Linked DNA regions of Homo sapiens: region 2 is linked to region 1. A link means that fine-mapping ties the variant in region 1 to the expression of a gene that starts in the linked region. Tissue or cell type: uterus. Region 1 holds a variant in brackets; the other region holds the start of a gene. All regions are shown on one strand. Distances are from middle to middle.

Evidence for each region. PIP is the estimated chance that this variant, and not a neighbour inherited with it, causes the effect.
Region 2: RBM38 starts here. The variant in region 1 is fine-mapped to the expression of RBM38 in uterus (GTEx, PIP above 0.99).

The regions. Positions count from the first base shown.
Region 1 is chr20:57,440,619-57,448,709 of GRCh38, reverse strand. No RefSeq gene overlaps it. Among named protein-coding and RNA genes, the nearest start is that of RBM38-AS1, 52 kb to the right of the region's middle. RefSeq lists enhancers at 6,662-7,521, 4,473-8,091. The variant C/T (reference allele first, on the strand shown) is at 3,167.
Region 2 is chr20:57,387,059-57,395,149 of GRCh38, reverse strand. RBM38 (RNA binding motif protein 38) reads right to left here and starts at 3,754. Exons shown (of 4, transcript NM_017495.6): 1 at 3,332-3,754; 2 at 2,373-2,496; 3 at 1,817-1,871. The coding sequence starts at 3,568. It overlaps RBM38-AS1 (RBM38 antisense RNA 1), which reads left to right and starts at 2,094. Exons shown (of 2, transcript NR_149006.1): 1 at 2,094-2,871. RefSeq lists enhancers at 2,092-2,281, 3,036-3,535, 3,536-4,037 and silencers at 3,132-3,321, 3,672-4,071, 5,682-6,061.

The sequences.
Region 1 (8,091 bases):
CTGGAGTGGCATGTGCATGTGTGTGTGAGTGTGTGAGATTGCAAGAAGCAGCATGCATGTAGAAGTGTGGCTGGGCATAGTGGCTTACGCCTGAAATCCTAGGACTTTGGGAGGCCAAGGTGGGAGGATCACTAGAGGCCAGATGTTCGAGACCAGCCTGGCAACATAGTGAGATGAGATCCCATCTCTAAAAAAAAACAAAAGTAGTGTGTGAGTGTGTCTGTGAATGTACACAGGTAAGTGTGCATGGGTGTGAAAAGTGGGTGAGTGACTGAGGTATGTGGACCCTCCCCAGAGTTACACCTGGAAGGCTCCCGAAAAGGCCTGGCCGCTCACTCGCAGGAGTCGGTTTAGCTCCCTGAAGGGCAGCTGCCAGCCAGGCCGAGGATAAGGAGCAGGTTTAGCTGGCTGATGCTGGACCAAATTAAATGTTAAAACAACATCCAGGCCTGTGGACGTGTGCACTTAAAGCTGTGCCTGCTGCTCTGGATGATCTAGCTGATTCTTGGTGGCCACGTCTGATGTTTCTGCTGAGATTTAGACACCCTGTCCCTACCCCTGCCACCTCCCAGGGTGAAACACCCACCCGGGAGTTCAGGGCCCTGCCACCCAAGAACAGAAACCATGGGGTAAACCCCACCTCAAGGAGACGCCTCACCCTTGGAGGAGACGATGGCGCCCCGCACCTGTCATGACTGCCCCATGGCAGAGGTCCCCTCCCTAATCCAACCAGACCTCGGTTAAAAACTTCATAGCTGTATATCCTAGGACAAGCAGCTCATCCTTCCAGATCGCCATTGCCTCCCTTCCTGGGCTCCCTAAATGCTTTCATCAGATTGCTGCAAGAGGATGAAATGCTTGTAAAGACCTGACCTACAGCCGGGCGCAGTTGCTCACACCAGTAATCCCAACACTTCGGGAGGCAGAGGTGGGCAGAAGGCTTGAGCCTAGGAATTCAAAACCAGCCTGGATAATAAGGTGAAACCCCATCTCAAAAAAAAAATTAGCTGGGTGTGGTGGTGCATGCCTGTAGTCCCAGCTACTTGGGAGGCTGAGGTGGGAGGATGGCTTGAGCCTAGGAGGTCCAGGCTGCAGTGAGAGGTGATCTTGCCACTGCACTCCAGCCTGGTCAATGAGCAAGACCCTGTCTCAAAAAAAAAGAAAGAAAGACCTGCCCTGGGGCCAGCATTTAGTAACCCCTCAATATAAGTGAGCTATTAAGGAGGCTTGGATGTTATTATTAGCAACTAGAATATGAGACAGCCTGAGATTAAGCTCCCCACCCAGCCTAGTGGGATAAGGATCCAATCACAATTCTGTTGATAGTAAGAACAATAAACCAATGCCATATTTATTATCTGGATTGTGACCTGAAGTTCTTACCTTATTACAGGGACATAGACCTGAACTGGTGTGTGTTGCTGTCATTATAACTGTTGGCTCCTTGGCAGCAAGGACTGTGTTGTCTTTTAGTACCACTCTGTCCTCTACACTTAATACGGCACCTGGCACACAGTAGGTGCTTGATGTTGTTGAATGAAAGAGCGAAGACACCTGAATGGCCTGAAGGACAGAAAGACAGCAGTCAGTGTGTCCTGATGCCTGATAAACTTTGATCCTGCTTAACTGGGACTTACTGTTTCTATCACTGAAGCAGAGGGTGAAAGAAATATTTACCAAAAGGCTCCCAGTCCTGGTGGGTTTCTTGCAACTACAGATTGCCTTTTTAGACAGCATTTCTCCAGAGAGCAGCTGACCTCCTAGGTCGTGTTTCACAGGGATAGTGGGGTAGGGGGTGACAAGAAGTAAGCCTCCTCTCAAGGAATCAACACTTACTCTGCATGAGGCACTATGCTGGCGACTTTACATACCTCACCTTATTTAGTTCTCACAACAATTTATAGCTTTTATTTAGGTGCAGTCACCCCTGCCTGCCAGACCCATGTGCATATCTGATTGTTCCCCTACCCCATTTTGTCTGTGTTATCTTATGTAAAATGCAGATTCCCCCATCTTTCCTTTATCCCTTTTGTTTATGTGAAAACTGTGTGTTTCTCAATATCCCACCCTTTCTCCTTTAAATTTGGAGCCCCCAAAATCATCTTCAGAGAAAGACATAGACCTGTCTCCCAGGTGCGTCCTTAACTTTGGCAAATAAATCTCCAAAAATGATTGAGACTTGTCTCATCGTTTTCTCCGATTGACAAGCCAAACCATTCACATGTTACAAATGAGGAAACTGAGGCTCAGAGAGGTATATAGGTACCCAGTGTGGTACACAGATTTGTATAAAATGACCTAAATTCATCCTTCCTTGTATCCACGCCCTTTGCAAAATGGTTTTGCAGCTCTTCCCATCAAAAGGCAGAGGTGGTTTCCAAACTCTTGAGTCAGGTTGGTCTTGTGACTTGCTTTGGCCAACAGAATTGCTGGAAGTGATACCGTGCCAAATCTAAGACCCCAAACTGCCTTGCAGGTTTCTTCTCTCTCTCTCTCAGACCCCTGTCTCCATCAGGAGAACGGTCTGCTGGAGAATGAGAGACCAGTTGTTCCCATCACCCTAGATGATAGTCAGAGCTTCCTGCAGACCTGGCAGCTGACTGCAAAAATGCATGAGGGATGCCAGCCCACACCAGAACCATCCAACTGATGGTTCAGGCTAAATTGTCAACTCATAGAATCATGTTTTAAGCAACTAGGTTTTGGGACGATTTGTTACATAGCAGTAGCTAACTGATACACTCACAGTCACACAACTGTTAAAGGCTGAGTCAGGACTCAAGGCAGGAGTCGGGTTTGTGGGACTCCAGAATCCATGCTCTCAACCTCTGTATTTTGCTGCCTCCCAGAAGGAAAATGAGGATAACAGGGCTCTAGCTGCTAAAGAGCCCTTCTCTTGTGTCCCAACATTCAGCTACATCTTCTAGGGAACGTGCCTAATCCCTGGCTCTCTCCTGCCCTGGCACCTCCTTTCATCCCCTGAGCCGTGCTCTTTCATCTCCTACCCTTACAAGGGTCTGGGTGGGGACAAAGCACTGGCTGCCACTTCAGGTTTCCCTGAGCCCCTACTTTGATCCGCTCCAACCCTGCTCGTTTTCAAGGTTTGTTCAGAATGCTGGCAAGAGCCAATGTTTCTACACGTACCTATCAGCAGCCATGATGAAAA[C/T]CAGCTGTGAGGTTTAAAAATAGCCCCCAAGGGCTGCCAAAAATGCCAGGTCCCTGACTCGGAGAGGAGAAGCCAATCCCAAGGTGCGGCCACCATCATCAGGGAAGAGTCATAGCCACCACATGCCCAGGAGTCTTCCATGCCAGTCCCACAGGACTTGCCACAGGAGCTCAGCTGAGCCCGAGTCCCTAGGAGCAAAAGCCCCCGGAGAAGCGGGGATGGAGTTCGAGACCAGCCTGGTCGACATGGTGAAACCCCATCTCTACTGAAACTACGAAAATGAGCTGAGTAGTCCCAGCTACTCAGGAGGCTGAGGCAGGAGAATTGCTTGAACCCGGGAGGCAGAGGTTGCAGTGAGCCGAGATCGTGCCACTGCACTCCAGCCTGGGCAACAGAGCGAGACTCTGTCTCAAAGAAGGAGGAGGAGGAGAAGGAGGAGGAGGAGGAGGAGGAAGAGGAGGAGGAGGAGGAGGGAGGGGAAAATAAGGCAGGGCCCAGAAAGCCTCCCAGGGGCCTCTTCCCCCTCCTGCTTCCCACACCTCCTGCTGCCCCTCCCTCCTCCCCCCTTCCATCATTCTCTCCCCTTCCCTCTTTTTTTATTGCGTCCGAAGGGAAGAGACTGGGCTGTGGAGGGAGACTGCCTAGATCCCCCTCGGGAATTCTGTGATCCTAGGCAAGTGACGTCACCCTTGAGCCTCAGTTTCCTCATCTGTCACACGGAGGTCTGGCTTGCTGGGTGTCCTAAGGACCTACTAGGACGATGAGTCGGTGAGAGCACGATGCCGTCATTTCTTCTTTGGAGAAGGATGGGGATGAGGAGAGTGCCCTCCTCTCTTCTCCCTCTTTCTCCCTCCTTCCTGCCCTCCATCCTCTTTCCGCTCCCACACGCCCCTGGCCTGGCCCCCATGTGACGGCCCCCAGGGCCAGGGATCTGCCAAGCTGAGTCTACCTGCAGTGCAGCCCTGTTGCCCTGGGGCGCCCTGGGCCTGGCTCGCTGAGGGAGCCCAGACCAGGCCCGCTGCACCACCCCATCAGCTCCCACATCAGCCCTGTGCTGGGTGTTTGGCTCACAGCTATATCCCAGTGCCTACAATGCTGCATGGCACCTAGTAGGTGCTTAACAAATATTTGCTGAGTGACCGCAGGAACCAGCAGTAATTGTTCCCATTGACAAATGAGAAACTGAGGCTCCAAGAAGTTGGCTAGCTTATAGCAGAGCACAGCCCTTAAAGCTTGAGGGGACCCACATAAACAAAAGGGATAAAGGAAGGATGGGGGAATCTGCATTTTACATAAGATAACACAGACAAAATGGGGTAGGGGAACAATCAGATATGCATTTGTGTTTGGCAGGCCGGTCCTACCCAAGGTCCCAGAGGCGGATTTGAACCCAGTTTTGCTGGTGAATGACACCCCATTTTCTCATCTCTTCTAGCCGGCTTTCCCCTTACAGGCCAAAGCCTGTCACACAGGCGCTGTGTGGCCTTAGGTGATTCACACACCCTCTCTGAGCCTTGGTTCCTGCATTTGTAAAACAGAAAACTGACCTAGCTGCACTCAGGCACAATTTCCCTGGGCTCATTTTTCCTCTGTTCTCAGCATCCAGCACAGGCTGTGGCGTGAGGTCCACACCAAATAAATCTCTGTTAGTTAATTAATGAAAAGGACAAGTTTACTTTAGAGTATAAAAGTCTGCTCCGAAGCTCTCCAGTTACCGTCTCTGGGAGCATATTCTTTCTCTCTTCCATTTCAAAGAAAGAGAAACTGCAAAGGCACAAGATACACTGGAGATGTGGGTTATGCAAGGAAGATGAGGGGACCACCCCAAGCAGCAGAGCACCCCACCCCACTCAGAAAGACCTTTTTCCTCCATCAAAAAATAGGTGAATGAATGGGAAATGCCAGTCTTTCCATTGAAATGCAATCTTGAGGGACGAGTATTTCACAGGCCATGGACCGGCCTTGGTGCTGACTTTGACGCACACCAGCTCCTGGTCCTGAGCGTGTCAGCGGGGAAATGCCCTGCTTCTCCAGCTTTGCAGGATGGTTGTTCACGGCTTCTAGGACAGCGCTGTTCCAGGCTCTGGGAGACCCCGATGAGCAGCCGAACCCTGTCTATCCCTGAGGGAGCGGATGTCATGTGGGGCATCCGGAAGGTTCTGAGCAATTCTGCTTGGAATCTCAGAGGTTCCAACAGAACAGCTGCAAGTTACCAGTTGACACGTTCAAGCACCTGGATGGGTGGTCAGTTTCTGTAGATCCCAGAGAACTTTCTGGAAAGGTGGCAGTGTGTGCCCCTAGGGCAAGAGTCAAAGGTGGTAGCCACCCAGGGAGCCCCAAGGAGAGGTTCTGGCGCTCTCAGGACATCCAGGCCACACCAGTCTTCCAGGCACCCCCCCCGCCCCACCTCCAGGCACACCAGCTCTGCCCAGGTTGCCCAACCTGTATGTGTCCGGGTCATGGCCATCGTCACCCACAGCGTCACAGGCGTCCTGGCCAGCACCTGCCTCCTGCTAAAACGCTAAAAACAGCTGCATTACCTTGCCGGCCTCCAGTCCCTGAGAACAAACTCACCTGGCTTAAATAGAGTGGCTGGAAGAGCACTTTCATTAGGGGCCGCACATTCTGACATAGGGCTCCTGGCTGCTCCCCAGGTTGGGGGCTGGGGGGTGTCACTTTTATAAACTTCCACAGACCCTTCTTGCCAAGCCTACTGGACAACAGAGGCTATGATGAATCCAGGCTGACCGGCAGGTCCTGGCACCACTCACCTCAGAGTCTAAGGCCAGGCTGGAGTGACCAGGCTGGAGTGGTCAGGCCCCGCCCACCTGAGCTGCAGAGGGGCAGAGGGGACAGGGCCGGCTGCATGGGGTGTGACCTGTGCAGTCGCAGAGGGACCCTCACACTCAGAAGGGCCGCCTGTTGGTTTAATGCTCTGCTGTTGTCGTCTTAAAAGTCTTCGTCGTTTTTGAACGTTTGGAGGGGGGGCCACATTTTTACTTTGCACTGAATGCCTCTGAGGGACTCATAAGTGGGCCCCATCCCCCCAGGAGTCCCAGAACTCATGAAGGGGCTTCAGAAATGAGCAGCAGCAGAACCACAGACATCCCCAGGCCGGGGCCACCCTCTCGAGTATCCCGCGCCCTGGCTGTTGGGCTGCACGGTCACGTTCCCATGGTTGTGCTAATAGGGGTTGGGAGGGACATGCGTACACACACAGCCATGCAGTCACATGTGCAATAGCTGGTCACCCCACGCCTGCACTTCCAGCACTGGGAGTGGCTGGGAGGCCTCACCATGCCCCCATCACACCTAAGATAATGAGACAGCAGGGAGGGCAGGAGGAGCTGAGGAGGGGGTGTCAGGGACAGAAAGAGAGCCCTTGCCTCCCCCATCTCCGAGGAAAGGAGAGATCCCTCCCTCGCCCTGCTGTCAATCTTCCAGGAACTCCCTGCAGGGCCCTGAGAGGTGTGCATCTTGTCCCCTTGAACTCCCGCTGCCACCCTGAGATAGCGTTTGTATCACACCCATTTTAAGGATAGCAAAACTGAGGCTCCAAGAGCCAAAGCTGCTGGCTGGAACCAAGGCGAGCAGACACAGGAGCCTCATGCCCCGTAGTGGCTCCTAAGGGAGGACCTGCCCCCTGCCCCTCCCCCTGCCCATTCCTCTGCCCACACTGGCTCATGGTCATGGGGGTCTTCCCTCCTCAACCAGCACGCATGCGCCTTCCTCATCATAGCCACAGTTGGAGGGCAGGTCACTGCCCAAGGGCCCTCAGTGTGCTCCTGAGCCCGGGCCCGCTTCCCAAACCGCTTGGCCAGCCTTGCCCTTTGGCCCCAAAGACCAGGCACCAGGAAGGGGCTGACTGGTGGGACAAGCAACATCCAAATCGGAACACCCTGGGGGATGCAGGAGTGGGAGCGGGGTCCTGGGGGAGGGACAGGTCATTTCTTGGCCTGGCTCGGGGCTCCCGTTGCAGCAGCGGGAGTCCTAGGAATGTTTCTCCACCTTGCCTTCCCTCAAGGTTCCCAATGGAAATTTGCCAGAGGTTCCTCATGGCAGCGCGTCTGGCAGGGGATCCGGGACCGTCTACCCAGGCTTCTTAGGGTGGAGCTCTCCCTTGAGTCGAGGGGACCACAGTCTGCAGAGTCTTTGCTGGGCAGGCAGGGCAGTGCGGGAGGAGGAGACAGGCAGGCCTGCTACTGCTGGCCCAGCTGCCGCCGTCTGAGCCTGGCCAAGCCCAGCTGCCCAGGCCTTATTTGGTAAGAGCCTGTGCTGGCCTGGCCGCTCCAGCTGCCAGCTGATGGGACACCCAGAGCCCCGCGCAGGCCTGTGCGCATGCCAGGCCTCTCACCCGGCCCCTTGGCCAGAGATGGCCGATTTGGAGGCGGGAGATCCCGGGGTCAGGCCAAGGCTGTGGCAGCTTCCATCAGATCCCAGCCCAGGGTGGGACAGGGATTCCCCGGCTTTTGACTATATAAGGCCGAGGAGAGGCAGCGCCGCTGAGCAGGCCTGCAGGCCCCGGAGATATCGTCTTAAGAGGGTGTTTGGCATTGGGAGCGAGGCCTTGGATTCCTGCAAAAACCTGGCAGGGAAATTGTTTGACAGCTTTGACAATGTGCTGAAGTCTCCCGAGGGGAACCCGCCCCCCCGGAGACGGCTGGCCAAGGGCATGTGACGCTTCAGCTGCCTCCAGGCTGAGAGTTCGGGCAGCCAGGCCAGACCTGTGGCCTGAGGAGAGGCCAGCCGTGGGCAGTGGTGCCCGGGAGAAGGCAGTGGGGGTGGCCCCAAGCTTGGCTTCCTGGTCTGTGTGGAGCGTGGAGCAGCACCCACCGCCCATGGGGTCCTCAGGCCTCAGGGAGGAAACAGTGGGGAGGAGTGCCCCCAGGGTGCCATCAGGGGAGCTGCCAGGCCCCGAGTCCTGC
Region 2 (8,091 bases), 54 kb after region 1:
CAGAGGCCTGCTATGAGGACAGGAGAGGACTTCTGAGGAGGCCAGAGCACCCAGCCCACATGCCTGTGCACTGTTTTAAGCAGTTAATGTTCCTGTTTTCCGGATGAGGATGCCACTGCCAAGACAGACCCAGCTGGTAAGGGGCAAAGTCAGGATTCGAACCCACCTCTGCAGGCCCCAGAGGCCAAGCACTGATGGGTATGGAGTCCCAGAGGTAGCTGTGTGGATCAGAGCGAGCCCAGACGCACGTGGGAAGGCCTTATCCCACTGTAAGCAGAAAAGAGCTGCAGGCACTGGAGGCACACACCCTCACCTCTGGGCAGCTGCTCCCGCCCAGTCCATGCCCCCAGGCGCCTGCTGTGGGCCTGGGGAATGGAGCCAAGGTTCTGGAAAACAAGGAACACCCTCTTCATGTGGCCTGAACCCCATAGGAAGAATCTCGGTGAAGGCATGAAGGCTACAGTGTCCCCAAACACCCTCTAAGACGACTCTAGACATCTACAAAACAGATTCCAGGACGAGACGGACAGGGCCGCCTGCTCCCACCACCCTACACGCTCCCTTCCCAGGAGGACAGAGGCACCCCGGCAGGAACCTGAGCTGCCCGGCCACTCGCACAGGCTAGAAGGGCCCCGGCCACCCTCCAGCACCCCTCAGCCAGCGGCTCCTCCCACTGCTACACTTGCACACATCCACCAATACACACGGAAGCCGGCAGGGAGCCCCCGAGTCACCCCAAGCGTTCCCAAAAAGTGGGCACAGCAACTTCTGCTGGGGCCTCTGACCCATTCACCTGGGAGCCAGGCCCCAGGGGACCCATTCACCTGGGAGCCAGGCTCAGCCGGGTTCCACAGGATCCTTGTCCACACTGCCCCAGTCAGGCAGGTTACTCCTCAAGCTGTGTCTCTCTCAATGGAATCTACGTGGTGCGCACATGCGTGAGCACACACACGTGATCAACTGGCATTAGGGATTTGGATTCAGAAAGTTCATGAAGTGCCAATGCCCTGAAAGGGGTGGTGGTCTCTGAGCTGCCTTCCCCTCCAACTCCAACCCCATCAATATGCCACGGCGCTAGGGCAGACAGCTTCCATCCATCATGGGGGTGGGGAGGCAGGCCGCAAGGCAGGACTCTTTGTATCCCTTAAGTGTGTGTGTCCCTCCCCAAGCAGCTGCCAGGACTTACTAGATGTTTTAAAAAAGGGCAGGGAGGTGGGAGGCGTTTTAGGATGGAGAAGAGTGGGCTGCGCTGCTTGTAAATGAGTCAGACTAGAAGCCCATAGGCCAGGCCACTCAGGCAGGTGGCCTCCACCCCAAACACATCGTATCTACAGCAACGTTCACAAACATCAGACCTTGGTAGCAATGACCTACTGCCACCACCTGCCCCAGCACTAGAACAGGTGAGAGGAGTGCCTGGGGAAGAACTCAGCCTGCCAGTCCCTAAGAGTCATCAGCAAACACTTCAAGAGGGCGTTACCTGCACCAGGCCCACCCTAGGCCCTCCATTCAGAGAACTCAGATGTGCTGTGACCACTCCCATTTTACGGGTGAGGAAACTGAGGCCACACACCTAGCGAAGGGAGCTGGGGTGTGTACCAAGGCAGGCAGGCTCCAAGGCTCACCATCCCCTAGGTGGTATGGCCTCTGCCAGGGATGGAGAAGTGCAATCTGCCTTCTCTTCACTCCCTTGGCTTAAACGCAATCAAATGTCTGAAAACTGTCATTTCCCCAGCCTTCCAGACCCAGGAAGCCCAAGGCCCTCTCCACTTCATCTCCACGGACTACCCACCCCAAGCCAGCCATGTCCACTCACCCGTAAGTCCGCTGGATCAAGGTGGGGTGCAGCTGCTGCACCCCAATGGCAAAGCCTAAAACGAGAGAACAATCAGGGACTTGGCCTTGCTGCACGAGCCACGTCTCAAGGGCTGCACACAGGGTGGCAGAATCCCACAAGCCACACACCTCTAGTCAAAAGGGATCATCCGCTTCCTCTCCCCTCCCAGGCCTCCCCCTTGTGAACCCCAAGGCACACCGCTGAAGTGTGGCAGTGAGTGACGCAGGTGTCAGCAGCCACTGGTGTCGGCACTCCCAACCTCCAGGCCCCATGGCCACTTCCTCCCTCCTGCGAGGACAGCTGGCAACTGGGGTGCAGTACCCTCCCTGCCCCCCGCCCCCTTCTTTGGGCCACACGCTGTGAGAAGGGGTCTAGATCCTCGAGGGGGGGATGGCTGCCCTGTGCCGGCTCTGCAGGCACATGATAGCCGACTGCCACTGCTGGGGCGAGGAGGGGGGGCCTCTTTCCACCCGACAGATACCGACACCCAATATAGAAACCGAGAAGAGCCAGGCAGGAAAACACAAGCTCTCACCCGTCTGGAGGCTCCGCGGCTTGGCGCCCAGATATGCCAGGTTCACGTTGGCCTTGCGGCCGTCGATGATGGGGTTCGGGTCTTTGCAAGCCCTCTCAGCTGCCGCCCGGTCGGCCATGGTCACCTGGTGGAGCAGAGACACATCAGGGGCTGCCGTGGGGGGAACCAGGGGCGAAAGGGGCAGACGGCTCCGCCCTGGCACCGGATGCTGCCACCCCTCTCTTCCCTTCCTCTGAGGGTGCCTGTGACCCAGGGTCCTTGAGCCAAAGCTCCTCTGAACCCTACCTGGGGCTCTCCCACAAAGATGCCTCCTGGATTCCAGCTCCTCCCGTCAAAGTTCAAGGCCTGGGAAATGTGGCCTTCAAGGACAAAAATAATCCCCTGCGGGGATAGGGCAAAAATGAACCCCGAAGGGAGCTTGGGGGGCCGCCTGGACTTGCCCACCAGTGAGGGCCGAGACTTTCCTCTGAGAAGGAGTTTGCGACGCTATGCTTGGAAGGTAAGCAGGAAAGTGTCTTCAAGACGTTTTTACTTAAGCTGATGTTTATTTGGGGCGGCTGAGAGGGCTGTTAAAAATATGGGGGAGGCCGAAGAGCTCCTAACACCCCGGGGTGGAGCCATTGCTCCTCACCCCCCGCTGCTCCAGGAAATCCCGAGTGCCCTCTGGCTCCAAAACCTCCCCACCAACTTAGGAGTCCTAATTGAACACAGCGGCTCTTCCTTTTAAACCGGGGGTGGGGGTGGGGGTGGGGGTGGGGGTGGGGGCCGGGGCCTGGGGTGGTGGGGGCGGGACCGGCAGGAGCGCGCCCGGGAGAGGCGGCAGGTGCGGGCGCCGGCTGGAGGCGCCTGGGGCGGGGGCGGCAGCGGGCCGTCTGGGCGTGTGCCCCGGAGTGGACTCGGCGCCCGGGCCGCGATAAGGTGTGCGGCGGGGTGCGGGCCCGGGCGCGGGGGCCACTTACGAAGCCGTAGCCGCGGGACTTGCCCGTCTGGCGGTCGGTGATGACCACGGCCTCCTCGATGTCGCCGAAGCCCTCGAAGTACTTCCTGAGCGAGGCGTCGGTAGTGTGGTACGGCAGGCCGCCCACGAAGATCTTGGTGAACGTGGTGTCCTTCTGCGAGCCGTGCATGGCGCCGGGGGCGGCCAGGGGCCGCGGGAAGCCCGCGCTCGGGGCGCACGGCGCGGGCTGCAGCAGCATGGGGGGCGCCCCGCCGCCTACGGACCCGGGCCGCGCGGGGCTGCGCTCATGGGGGGCGGCGGGGAGCGCGCGGGGCAGCGAGGGGCGCCCGTCCAGCCGCCAGGCCCGACCACTCCGGCGCCCGTCCCGCCGTGCGCGCCGACGTGCGCCGCGCTGCGCTCCCGACCGGCGCTGCGGGGACTCTGCGCCCCGGCACCGCCCCCGGGCTTTGTAGCCTGCCGCCCCCGCCAGCTCAGCCCCGCCCCCAGCCGGCCCCGCCCCGCCCCGGGCGCGCGGGGACCGCCGGGAAGCGTAGTTCTAACCCCGCCCAGCCGCACCCGGGCGCGCGGCGATTGGGGGGAGGGGGGAGGGGAGCGCACGCGGGCTGAGGGCGGATCCGGGCCTGGGGGCGCTGGGCGCGCCTTTCTCTCCTGGCTGCCCCCGCGGGCCCGGCCGGTTGCAGGCACTAAGCACAACCCTGAACTAGGGAGGCCAGGCCCCTTCCCTCGTGGAGCGCACCGTCTGGTGAATTAAACGTAAAAAACGTAAAAAAACGTAAACGGTTTTTAGCATCTTGTTAATTGAGTCGGTATTTAACCCAGGGCGACTTAGGGAAGAGCCACGTGCCATATTAAAAAAGGGAAATGATTTCTGTTTTATATGTAAGATTAGTTCATCCGACCGATATTTACTCTGGGCGCGAGGCTGCAGCGGAGCACAGATCATATTCCCTGGCCCCACGGAGCGTCCAGGACTGAGAATTCGGCTAGTAAACATACAGCATACGACCCCGGAGGGAGCTACACCACGGTGCCGCGATAGAAGCGGGTCCCGGGCGGTCTCAGAGGCCCCGCGGGAGATGAGGTGGGCAGAGGAAGCAGGTGTGGGCTCTTTCCAGCTCCACCCCGTTCTGGGCTGGTGTCAGGGACCCTTGGGGCGAGTAAGAGCAGACCCGGGTCCCTCATCCGGCCCCCAGCCATAGAAAGGCGGCGCATAGTGGGGCTCTGTGAGCTTCACACCAGGCAGGGCCAGCCACAGAATTTTCGGGGCCCAGTGCAAAATGCAAACGCGGGGCCCCTTATTCAAAAGCTAGGAATTTCAAGTTGGCAGCGGTTGAGCATGAAACTCAGCCCCGGGCTTTCCTGAGCGAAGGGAAGGGCCGTGTGACTGCACAGACCCCGGGATCCCGGACCTGCGGGTCACACCCTCCACCTCTGAAGCCGGGACTAGGGGCCTCAAGCCCGCCTCATCTCCAGCCCCCGCGGTTGGGACCTATGCAGCTGGGAAACAGCAGCTCTAATTGGGGTCACTCCCGGCCCCAGCCCTGCGGCCTCCTCTCAGCACAGGGCGACGCAGGTGGGGTCTGTGGGGACTGGGAGTGGCACTCCGTGGGCTGTGGGGGACCGCAAGGCCGGCGAGGAGTTCCCCTCGTTTCCTCCAGCACCGAGGAGTTCTCCGCGTTTCCTCCAGCCCTCTGCCCTGGCTGCCGGCGGGGAGGAGTCTGCCCGCCCCCTCCCCCACTCCACGGCCCACGCTCCACGCGGCAGCCTTGACCTCTGACCTCTCCCTCCCCCAGCTCCCGCTCTAGCCCTCTGCACAGTGGGGATGGGACCCCCGAGTCTTCCGGAAGCCTGGGCGTCCTTTCCTCCCTTCCCCCTTCGTTCCTCGTTCCTGGCGCTCCTGCCCCCGCTTGCGGCCCCCGTTGCCCTTCATCCCGCGTGGTTTCCTCTCCTTCCTTCGCGGAGTTTCCCACCTCCCCGGCCCTGTGTGTTCGCCTGCCTGGAGCCCCTCCCCTGCTATTTGGGCGCTGCGAGAACAGGGACCTGGGATGTTTTGCCCAAGCTGGAGGGCCTGGCAAGGAGAGGGCTCTGGGATATGTTTGTTGAGTGTATCCACGATGGAACAAGGTGGGGTGGGGGAAAGCTCTGGCCCAGCCGGAGGCCCTTCGAAGCGACTTTGAAAACTTTCATTTAAGTGTGACCTTCACTTGCCCCCTAGAGGCCGGGGGAGGCGGCCACTGCGCGGCCGCGTGCTTTTGCGCCAGCTGGATCCCTTCACCAGGCCTCGGTTTCCCCTTCAGTTTTTCCAAGGCTGTCCCCAGCCGTCGCGTTGCCTGGGCAGGCTGGAGCCGCGTCGGTGGCGTGGCCACGGGCTTCAGCCCGGAGGCGCCCGGGCTCCCGGCCTACAAGTCCCAGCGCCGCCCGGGCCCGCCTCGCCCGCGCCCCTCCCGGCACGACAGCCCCACAAAGGGGTGCGGCCGCTCGGCTGCTGCCGCGGGGGCCGGGCCCAGGCGGCAGGGCAGCCCCGGGGCCTCTGCCTGCCCGGAAGGGGGCGGGACAGGGCCGTGGAGGCTGGAGACGCGGTTGCCCAGGTGCGGGTCCAGTCGCACTCCTTCGCCCCCCGCCCCCGGGCCCCCTTGGGTATCTGGATCACCAATCCCTCCCCCCCTCCGGCGGCCCCATGTCTCCACGGGTCACCAGCTTCTGCCTGACAATCAGTCATTCACCCAAACACACACTTTTTTTTTTTTTTTTTTTGAGACAAGGTCTCTCCCTGTCGCTGGAGTGTAGCGATCATAGCTCATTGCAGCCTCGACCTCTCGGGCTCCAAGCCATCCTCCTACCTCAGCCTCCCAAGTAACTGGGATTACCGGTGCGTACTACGATGCCGGGATAATTTTATATTTTGTGTAGAGGCTGGTCTCGAACTCTTGGGATTAGGCAATCTTCCTGACTTGGCCTCCCAAATTGCTGGGATTACAGGCTGAGCCACTGCACCCAGCCTCAAACACACATTTATGTGCACCACTGCACTCCAGCCTGGGCGACAGAGCAAGACTCCGTCTCAAAAAAAAAAAAAAACTACAGTCTCATCAGCGCCACTACTTGACCTTGTTGTTGAACGCATTGATGAAGAAGACATTGCTTGTCTACATTGCTACATCACATATTTGTTTTTTAAATATTTTCATAGCCGTTTTTATTTGTTTTAATTAGAGATGGGGTCTCTCTATGTCGCCCAGGCTGATACAGAACTCCTGGGCTCAGTTGATCCTCTTGCCTCAGCCTCCTGAGTAGCTGGGACTTCAGGTGCATGCCAACACACCCAGCCTATATTTTAATGTGATTGTTTTCCTTTGCTAATCTAAGCATTTTATTTGTTATTATTATTTTTTATAAAGACAGGGTCTTGCTGTGTTGTCCGGGCTGGAGTGCAGTGGTGTGATCATAGCTCCCTGCAGTCTCAGCCTCCCGAGTAGCTGGAACCACAGGCATGCGCCCAGCTGATTTTTTAAATTTTTTTTTGTAGAGTCAAGGTCTCCCTTTATTGTCTAGGCTGGTCTCAAACTCCTAGCCTCAAGCAACCCTCCCACCTCCGCCTCCCAAAGCACCGGGATTACAAGTGTGAGCCACCGTGCCTGGCTGGTAAGCATTTTAAGTGTTTAATACTATTACCTTAGGTATCAGCTGACTGCCAAGGGTTCCATGGCCCACAAAGGGCCCCTGGAAAGGGAACACAGTTTTGTGAGACTAGGCTGGGAGCCAGGCTGGGCAGAGGTGACTTGGGTCCCTCAGGCCTCACTGGGGAGCGGGAGGGAGGACTGGCAACTGTGTGTGCTGGGTGAGAAAATGGAAATTGCAGGAGCTTGGAACGCAGAATTCCTGCTCAGTGTGAGGATGAGCCCAGCACTTTCTGTGTGTTATCTTAGTTCATCTCACAAAAGCCCTAGGAAGAGATGACTACGATGATGCCCATTATATAGCTGAGGAAACTGATGCTCAGAGAGGTCCTCTCCTGCCTCCCTCGCAAATGTGTGATGTGTGCAGGGCACAAATGCAGAACTGCCTGGCCTAGGCCTGCTCTCTGCTCCCAGCTGTGGCTCCAGCTGCCCTGCAGAGGAGGGAGAGTGAGTTTACCCTGATGAGGATGTGCAGAGAGGAGCAGGTGAGGCCGGCCACTGCGATCTGAAACAGCACAGCCCCATCCAGGCAGGGCTCTGGTTTGAGTCTTCAGGCCCCGCGCTCTTGGGCCTCCTCTTTTTGTTTGTCGTGTTGGTGTTTATATCAAGGCTCTTCGGGGACTCAGCTTTGGGCTGAGCTTGGTGCAGGTGGCCTGTACACCCCCAGCCTGCAGCCCAGCTCCTTTGAATCCATGGGAGCCCCAGGTTGCCATTTTCATCTGCCAGGTGCAGAGCAGTGAGCCTGGGAATCCCAGCACTTTGGGAGGCCGAAGCAGGTGGATCACCTAAGGTCAGGAGTTCGAGACCAGCCTGGCCGACATGGTGAAACCCCGTCTCCACTAAAAATACAAAATTAGCTGGGTGTGGTGGTGCGTGCCTGTAATCCCAGTTACTCGGGAGGCTGAGGCAGGAGAATCACTTGAACCTGGGAGGCAGAGGTTGTTGCAGTGAGCCGAGATTGCACCACTGCACTCCAGCCTGGGTGACAGAGTGAGACTCCATCTCAAAAAAAAAAAAAGTTTCCCCATACTACTGGGCACAGAGGCCAAAATGCACCAGCAGGCACTGGTACTGGGGAGAGGAA